Regions from separate parts of the Homo sapiens genome. Here region 1 is linked to region 2. Evidence: fine-mapped expression QTL. A gene starts in region 2. The other region holds a variant in brackets. All regions are shown on one strand. Distances are from middle to middle. Region 1 has its middle 71 kb from the start of SLC9A6. Region 2 holds the start of FHL1 (four and a half LIM domains 1).

Region 1 (4,401 bases), 140 kb after region 2:
CTGGTCTCGAACTCCTGGCCTCAGGGGATCCACCCGCCTCGGCCTCCCAAAGTGCTGGGATTACAGGCGTGAGCCACCACACCCGGCCGTCTATGTTTTTCAAAGCTCACAGAGCTATATGCTAAAGGATAAATTTTATGGCATATAAATCATACTTCAATAAGCCAGAGGTTTTGTTTGTTTGTTTTGAGACAGAGTCTCACTCTGTCGCCCAGGCTGGAGTGTGGTGGTGTGATGTCAGCTCACTGCAACCTCCACCTCCCAGGTTCAAGCGATTCTCCTACCTCAGCCTCCCGAATAGCTGGGATTACAGGCATGCGCCACCAGGCCCGGCTAATTTTTGTATTTTTAGTAGAAACTGGGTCTCTCCATGTTTGCCAGGCTGGTTCCAAACTCCTGACATCAGGTGACCTGCCAGCCTTTGCCTCCCAAAGTACTGGGATTACAGATGTGAGCCACCGCGCTTGGCCAATGAGCCAGAGTTTTTCTAAAAAGTGAGTTTAGATTATTTTTCCACTTCCATCATTTCTGGAGAATCTGATGGACCCAGGAAGATAATGAAATGTTTGAAGTGTATGATCTTAAAAAGATTACAAAAACAGACAAAGGAAATTTTCTTATTCCTGTCAGTTCTCTTAAAGTTCAGCCTTAGATGGCTGGGGCTTGAGTTTTGTTTTTTTATTCTTTGCTCCTTTTTTTTAAAGTCACTCGAGGCCAGAATTTATGTGAAAGACATAGTTTTTCTTGGTATCTAATGAGGTGACTTTAGAATGATTTCAAGTATGATTTACAACTGGAGTGCTATCTTTATGAAACATTTATATCTGTGACAACACCTAATAAAACTTTTTATTGGAAACATTGTTTGTATGGTTAGAACAGACTGTCAAAATAATCCCCCTTGGACCAGATGCATCACAAACTGATCATTTACTCTGTTGTTCTTGCCGGTATCATATTTAAATTCAATCTGATGGGGACTAGAGAAAAGGGCAAGCCGATGACATCATTTTCTTTATAAAGATTGAAGTTTTCATTTACTACAAGGGACACGATATAAAGACTATCTTACAGTAAGAAACTACAATGCCCACAAGCTGGAAATTTCTGTCCTGAACTACCCAACTAGACACTGTTATTTGAATTCAGTCATGTCATTAAAATATTTAAGACCTGGTTTGTGCTTTATTTGATATAGAATTGGATCATTGTCTATAAGTACAGACTCTAGATGCTGTATAATTAGAGTGGTATCTGAAGCTATCTTTTTTTTTTTTTTTTTTTTGAGACAGAGTTTCGCTCTTGTTGCCCAGGCTGGAGTGCAATGGCACAATCTCGGCTCACTGCAACCAACCTCCACCTCCTAGGCTCAAGCGATTCTCCCCCCTCAGCCTCTGTAGTAAGCCTGGCTAATTTTTGTATTTTTAGTAGAGATGGGGTTTTGCCATGGTGGCCAGGCTGGTCTCGAACTCCTGACCTCAGGTGATCAACCTACCTCGGCCTCCCAAAGTGCTGGGATTACGGGCGTGAGCCACTGGCCTGAAGCTACCCTTTCGTTTCTTCCTTAGCCTAACAACAAGAAAAAGTTCTATAATATACCAGGGTTATGGAGAGGAAGT[G/A]GCAACTGGCTCAGCACAGATAGAAGCAGTGTGCCAGTTACTTTTGCTTTTAATTTACCTTGTAAGTTCTTCTGTTCATCCTTAGAAGTGACTCCAAATGCGTGGTACAGAAACTACATGCACAGATGCTGCTTGTTCACATAAAATCAGTGGAGAAATCAGAGAAATACCAAAAATATCTAATAATAAGCTATTGATCCTGCTAAAGGGCATAATGAAAAGATGGCATGAAGTTCTCTACAAGAAAAAAATGGCCATTTTGATCTATTACATTTACAAACTAGAAATGCTGAGCTCTAAAACCACATATCTAATAAATGCTGAGCTCTAAAACCATGTATCTAATGACAAGGCTATCTTCACCACTAGACTGTGAGCTCCTTGAGTGCAGGCAGCATGCCTGATGTACCTCTGACTTTCTAGATCAGACAGAAGGAATGAAGGAAGAATTTGTATAATCAAGTCATTGGTTTCCTATGAAACAGAGTTTGGAATCGCACTACTGACATCCCTACCAATGGGTCAGAAAGAACAGAGCTCAGTGTAATGAGAGCAGAGCTGTGGGCTCCATTGTTACATAGAATAGCCAGCTTTGTCCTGGACTGCCTTTGTAGGTAAAGGGGAGGTTCTGCGTTTAATGTATGTTTTTTAGGTCAGCACATCAGTCCTACAGTTTCTGGGTGAAGAAATAAATTCCTGCCGAGGAAGGAATGTAATTGGGGTTTAACACAAGCAATTTTAGGAAAGACCTCTACGTATCAGGACCAGCACTACATTTCTTAAAAAAAAAAAAAAAAAAGACATCTCTTTGTCCATCATCTTTCTCTCAAGTTAGTTCTGAAGTGACTTTTCCCAGCCACTCCGGAGGCAATGAGGACTTCATTTTGGAAACATTGGCTGAGTGTACTGGTGACTCACACCTCTGATGAATTAATAAAAGTTGAGAAAACAAAAACCAGATGTTTCCTTCATCTTAATATAGACCCCTAAGCTTTCTTTTTTCAGTTATACTGTCACTTGCTGATTTCCTTCTAGTGAGGCAAAGCCCAATATTTTGAAAGTTTGTATCCATGCCTATTGGATGACCTCCATCCCAACAGTTGCTATTTGGTTCAAATTTCCATAAAGACAGCAGGTCAGGCACGGACTGTTTCAGCAAGCTAGTGGCACACAGTGTTTGAGAACAGCATACCAGAGGGCTTGGACACTAGATTGGATTTGCTTGAGAACTCTTGCAACAGCTTCTGAGGAAAAGCAAAAAGCGAAGCCGTCTCTTAGCTTGCATGCAAACCCACACAGAACCAGAAAGAGACTGGCCAACTAGCCGTGGCTTCCTTTCCACATCCAGTATTCATTCCTTGGCCCTTGACCCTTCTGGAAAATGCTAAAAACTGTGTTTTAGAGAGCCCACAACATATATTTTCATTCTTCTGGCCAGACTGGAGGTGAATACACTGAAATCCAGAGTGACGTACATTTGAAAGTTTCCTAATAACACCACCCATCATTCCCTGAGAACTTCTGTAGCTTTCTGTTTTTCGTAAGGAGGGAAAATAATTTATTTTTTCCTCCATCCATTGTACTTTGGTTAAAGCAATTATTTTTCCCCAGACACCACCCATAGCAAAAAGCTCCAGATGTTTTTAGGTTATAATGAGAGAATGGATGGCAAACCCTGGTGTTTTTCAAACTCGTATCCTTTCCCAGCCTTTTTGTTTGGGGCCCTTAGCCCTCCTCTCCCTCCCCTCTTTTCTTAATTGGGCTCCACCTACCCTTACCTAAGTGATCCAGAAACAAATTTAGATTTGTGCTTTGACCGCTACATCTCTCAATCTCTTGGTCCTAATAGGTATCTTCTAAAATTGTGATTCCCACCACCCCATCCACTGATTTGCCCAATCCAGGTTGCTGGTAATCACTGTAACCTGTCCCCCTCACCCATTCACTACGGCTAGTCTCCAAATCAACACCAACCAGATGTCTCTTGCATCTGTCCCCTCCTTTCGACCCCTACTGTATTCCTGTGCTTAGGCCACCATTCTCTCTCACCTGACCAAGTCTTCTAACCATCATCTCTGTGTCCACTGTTACCCATCTCCAAATAATTCATCCTTTCCACCGTAGCTACAGTAAGTGATCTTTCTAAAACCCCTGTATGATCATGTCTTCCATACATTGCCACTCCTGGTAACATATTGAGCATGGTGGCCTGGGAAAAATTCTTACACCAGTGAGTAATGTGAAAGTGCTAGTTAAAGCTAGGTTAGGCTGGGTGCAGTGGCTCATGCTTATAATCCCAATCCTTGGGGAGGCTGAGGCAGGTGGATTGCTTGAGACCAGGAGTTTGAGGCCAGACTGGACAACATAGTGAGACCTTGTCTCTATAAAAAATAAAAAATAAAAATAGCCGGGCTTTGTGGCACGTGCCTGTAATAAACAGCTACTTGGGAGGCTGAGGTGGGAGGATCACTTGAGCACTGGAGGTTGAGGCTGCAGCGAGCCTTGATCATGGCACTGCACTCCAACCTGGGCTACAGAACAAGACCCTGTCTTATTTGTTTGTTTGTTTATTTATTTATTTATTTATTTTTGGAGATGGAGTCTCACTCTGTTGCCCAGGCTGGAGTGTGGTGCCATGATCAAGGCTCACTGCAACCTCCACTTCCCAGGTTCCAGCGATTCTCCTGCCTCAGCCTCCTAAGAAGCTGGGATTATAGGCGTCTGCTACCATGCCCAGCTAATTTTTGTATTTTTGGTAGAGATGGGGTTTCACCAGGTTGGT
Region 2 (4,401 bases):
TCGGGTGTCAGGAGGGTTCGATATAGATTATTAAAAGAAAAATTATGTGCCACTGAACTTCCTGCAGTCCAGATTCAATTCTAGTACCATTTTGTCTGTATATGAAGATTTTTCATAATGTTGCACAGATTACGTGCAACACAGCCCCTCTTTCATATGGGAAAAAAAGCATTTCTGACCCGGCAGCAAAAGAGCATGTGTTTTTAGTTTCTCCAGCTGTGGTGAAGTAGTAGGTAGTCATTTGGTGGTCATCAAAAGCACAAAATGTTCAGTTTCACTCTCACTCAAATCTTCTGTATTTTAAGAAGCCAATCCAGTTGGATTACTTTCCTCTCATCCTACCCTCTCATTTTCCATCCCTGCCCTGAGAAAAGACTGGCGGGCTTGTGCGGCCCACTGAGCAGCAGCTGGTGAAGGGAATCGATGGCTGTGTAATATGGCAAGTGACCTGATCCCCCTCCACACCCCAAACCTGGTTTTCGACTTGAAAGGCCAAAGGCTAAAGAAATTGAATCTACATAATTTTGCAGACAGAAAGTCTTCAATGTCAAGAGTATACATTGTTTTTGTCCTTGAAATGTCCTCTCAGTATATGGATAGTCACTAAAAATGGATTTGGATCCAATTATCCTAGCTTCTATTTTGCCCATACTGAGCCCGTTTCAGGGCAACACTGATTTTCTATGAGGACTTCTCTGTCTCATGGACTGATTCTTCTCTGCTTTCATGAATCTATTAACCTAATGCAATACAAAATGCAATTTCCTGAATTCAAAAATCATCTAAAAGGTATAAATAATTGGTCCCATTTAGCCACAGTTATTAGAGCCTCCAGACTTACATACACAAGAACGACATAAGAATTTGGTGCAATTTAAAACCCAAGGTTGGGTATGCTATAAACTTTCTGTCACTATTTAAACTTTTAAACTTTCTGTCACTATTCTGTCACTTAATTAGTAAACAAAATGAGAGTTATTCTACCAGGTAACATGCATTTAAGGTTCATCAGGACAACTAGCACAGCTGACTAGTTTGCCTACACCCAGAGAATGTGTATCTTGGCTGATAACCACAATCTCAAGCATTTGGTACCATGTTTGTGAAACAGCTCCTGAGGGTTGGAAAAAAAAAAAAACCAGACAACTTTTGAACACTTGGGAACAGGGAAGACATTACATATTAATTCATTAAGGTAGGGCATTCCATTGCAGCATATTTAAAACCCCAAAAAGAGAAATTTCCTAAAGTATTTCCATTGTTTAAATATTGACAGGCAATGAGTTTTAAAAAATGATTTTTCAAAAAAAAAAAAAAACATAGATAATGACATCCCTTAATCTGAAAGCTGGGAGACAGGATGAAGTGCCTTCTTTATATCTAACCGTCTGACTTTACCAGCCCCAAGAAAGGGAACCGTTACTTAGGCAGAGGGCCACAGGGCCACAGCCACCCTCCTGGCTTCAAATAACTGGGCTTTTGGCCCCTCAGCCCCTAGTTCATAGATTTCTTGTCGATGGCCAAAGGGCTTCCTTAATTGTAAGGTTACAAAACCAGAAGAAAATGCTCATGTCCCAAGGAGTCCAAAATGTGCCCCTTTTTCTGCTAAAAACAATTAATAACATACTTAGCATATCAAAAGGAACATAGCTGTTACTTCGGGAAGATTTAAAACATTGTCAGCAAAAGGGAAGATGTGCTAGGTCATTATGGACTTTCTTAGTTACAAATGTTCCTCCTTTCAGCTCCACATTCGATTTACCTTCTCCAAACACCTTGGATGTAAAGCACTGTCAAGATGAAGAATTGTATCTTATAAAAAAGAAAGCCAAAAATTCCTAACCAGAAAAACCTTTCCTCCCACAATCTCTTATAGTTTCATGAGATGTCCTGAAAAAGGTAAAAATATAGTGGTAACATGTTTATATACTTCTTTTTAAAATAAATCACTCAAACTGTTCATTGTACTTGAACAATATTTTGTCTTTGAAATAGCATGAAAGGCAAAGGCAAAACAGAGACAAGCTATAATTTATTTACTATTCAGACAAGACTAAAATCATTTCATCAAAAACCATCTTTTAGCCCAATGACGGATTCACTGCCCTAACAAAACTGTGCTCAATATAAGATAAAGAGCATGAAGTTTTACCTGAGTGTCTATGGGAAGCCATGGCTCAGAGACCAAGTTCAGGAGCAGCACCTAGACCAGTCTTCCCTCAACCCCAGCTGATAAGGCTGTGGCTCATTTGTGAACATACATTTAAGGGGAAGCGGCTAACACAAAAATAACCGAGAGCAGATGTCCCACCCCTCCCCAGAGATCACAACCTTAATCCCACTAGAAAATTCTTAACCATTTTAGGTGATCCAAGGGAGAAGAATAGGACCCAGTAAAAATACCAAACGCTACATATAAATACCTGCGGGGCTACTCAGCATCCAAATTAGCTCCAGAGCCAGAGAGGCCACATAGAAAGTCATCCCTGTACCGGAATAAAATTTGGACTCGGCTCTGGCATAGCTTAACGCTGAGCCAACCTTATTAATCCACTTTATATGCCTCAAGAGCTTGCATTTGGCCCTGTAAATAATACATTTTTGTGCTGTTAATGATAAAAGTAACTCTAAGAGATAGACTTATGTTACCAGTGTAACTCAAGGAGATTAGACAGTATGAATATAGAGATTAAGGGGATTATAGATGTTGTCACTCTATGTCCTCCTTAGTATGTTCCAGAGATCAGCAGATTACTGTACAGGAAAGGAGAGTGATCGTAATCTCCCCACCTCCTTAACGGCAGACAGCACAGAACAAGATGGGGAGACTATGCCTATCCCCATCACACACACAATGAAGACATTTTGTCTCACAAACTCAACCTCTTGTTTTTCAGCATCAGGGACAATAAAAGGAAAAACATGAATGAAAATGAAGACATCAACCTAAAATGTTGTAATAGCTCAACAGGCCATCAGATGTCTGGGGGCTGGCTATTAGGAGCATGTTCTAGGAAAAGAAAGCCCCCAAGTCCCTCCAGGACCTTCTTCCACATTCCTTCTCTGGCCTTACCCTTAGCCCCCTTTCCCTCACTCCCACCTCACTGGCCTCCTCACTGTCCCCTGTGCCCAGAGTCATGGTTGTTCCTTTCCCTACTTCAAGTCTGCTGGTATTGCACTGATTTCTCTCCTTGCTGTCTGATCTCCTGCTTTGCTCCATGAAGGCAGGGATTTAGTACTGGAGCTCACTGCAGTGGCCCCAGAGCCTAGAACACTGCCCAGCTCCCAGGAGGCTCTCAATAACTATTCCTTGAAAGAATGAACTAAATAACTGAAAAATCCATCAAGCCTCCAAAACATAGTCCCACCTGCAATCCTGAAAGTGGTTTTGGCCACTCAACTTCAAGGAAGGCAGCTGACCTTCTCGCTGGTACAGACACCTTTATAGCCACTGTCTTGTTTAAGTGGTTTTGGCCCTATTCACACATCTCCCCTACCAGGTTGAGGGCCAGGGCAGTGCTTTGCTTGTCTTCATGTTCCTATAGCACACAGTAGGTGAGCAGTAAATGCTCCATGAATAAATGAATGAATGAGTTCCCCAATTCTTACGATCTTCAAATGTTTAAGGAAAAGTTATTCTAAAAGACAACTGACATCAGTAACTCCCAGTTAGCTAGAAAATGACACAATAAAAGCCAGGTTGTTACGAGTAAATTTATTACATGTTAGAGGAAAAAAATAAGCCTGGGAAAAGAAGAGAAGCTACACTGTGCTCTGGCTCCACGCCTTTCTAGTCTCTTTCTCATCCAGCCTGATTAAATTATGGTGCGGAGATTAGCCAGTTGTAACAACACCACACCCCTAAAATAAACTGAAACTTTTCACCTAGAGGAAATTCTCTTACTTTATTAGATGATTAACCTTAATGAACCCTGAATTTTTTATTTTAGCAAGTTATATTTTTAGGAAGAGCCCATGTATGTTGAAATGCCTCTCTTGCAGCGCTGTGAACAATAGGCTTGGTGTGCCAAATACTTTCCTTTAGGAAGTCAATTCCTGTTTCAAGCTATGCATCAGGAAGTGTCTTCTTTTAGGCAAGTATGGTAGTTCTTTAGGTTTCTGATCATTTTGAAAAGTGACAACAGAATATGGATAGACAGCTTTATGAAAGTATCAAAAAACAAATCTGTTTTGCCTAAAATACAAGAGAAAATTCAAAGACAAGAGAATCACTTTTTGACCACCATGAATTAGTCAACTATGACCAGCCAGGATGGACTGGGAGCTTGGGCCTGCAACAATAGCATTTATTCCAGTTACTTCCATTTGCATCAACCAGGTAACTGTGCCCTCCTAAAAACTTCATGAAGCATGACCACTACCTGCTCTGACATCTGGCCC

Evidence for each region.
Region 1: its variant is fine-mapped to the expression of FHL1 in whole blood (TOPMed, PIP above 0.99).

Annotation. Positions count from the first base shown.
Region 1 is chrX:136,054,255-136,058,655 of GRCh38, reverse strand. No RefSeq gene overlaps it. Among named protein-coding and RNA genes, the nearest start is that of SLC9A6, 71 kb to the right of the region's middle. The variant G/A (reference allele first, on the strand shown) is at 1,620.
Region 2 is chrX:136,194,886-136,199,286 of GRCh38, reverse strand. It overlaps FHL1 (four and a half LIM domains 1), which reads right to left and starts at 2,240. Exons shown (of 6, transcript NM_001159699.2): 1 at 2,153-2,240. The coding sequence starts at 2,174.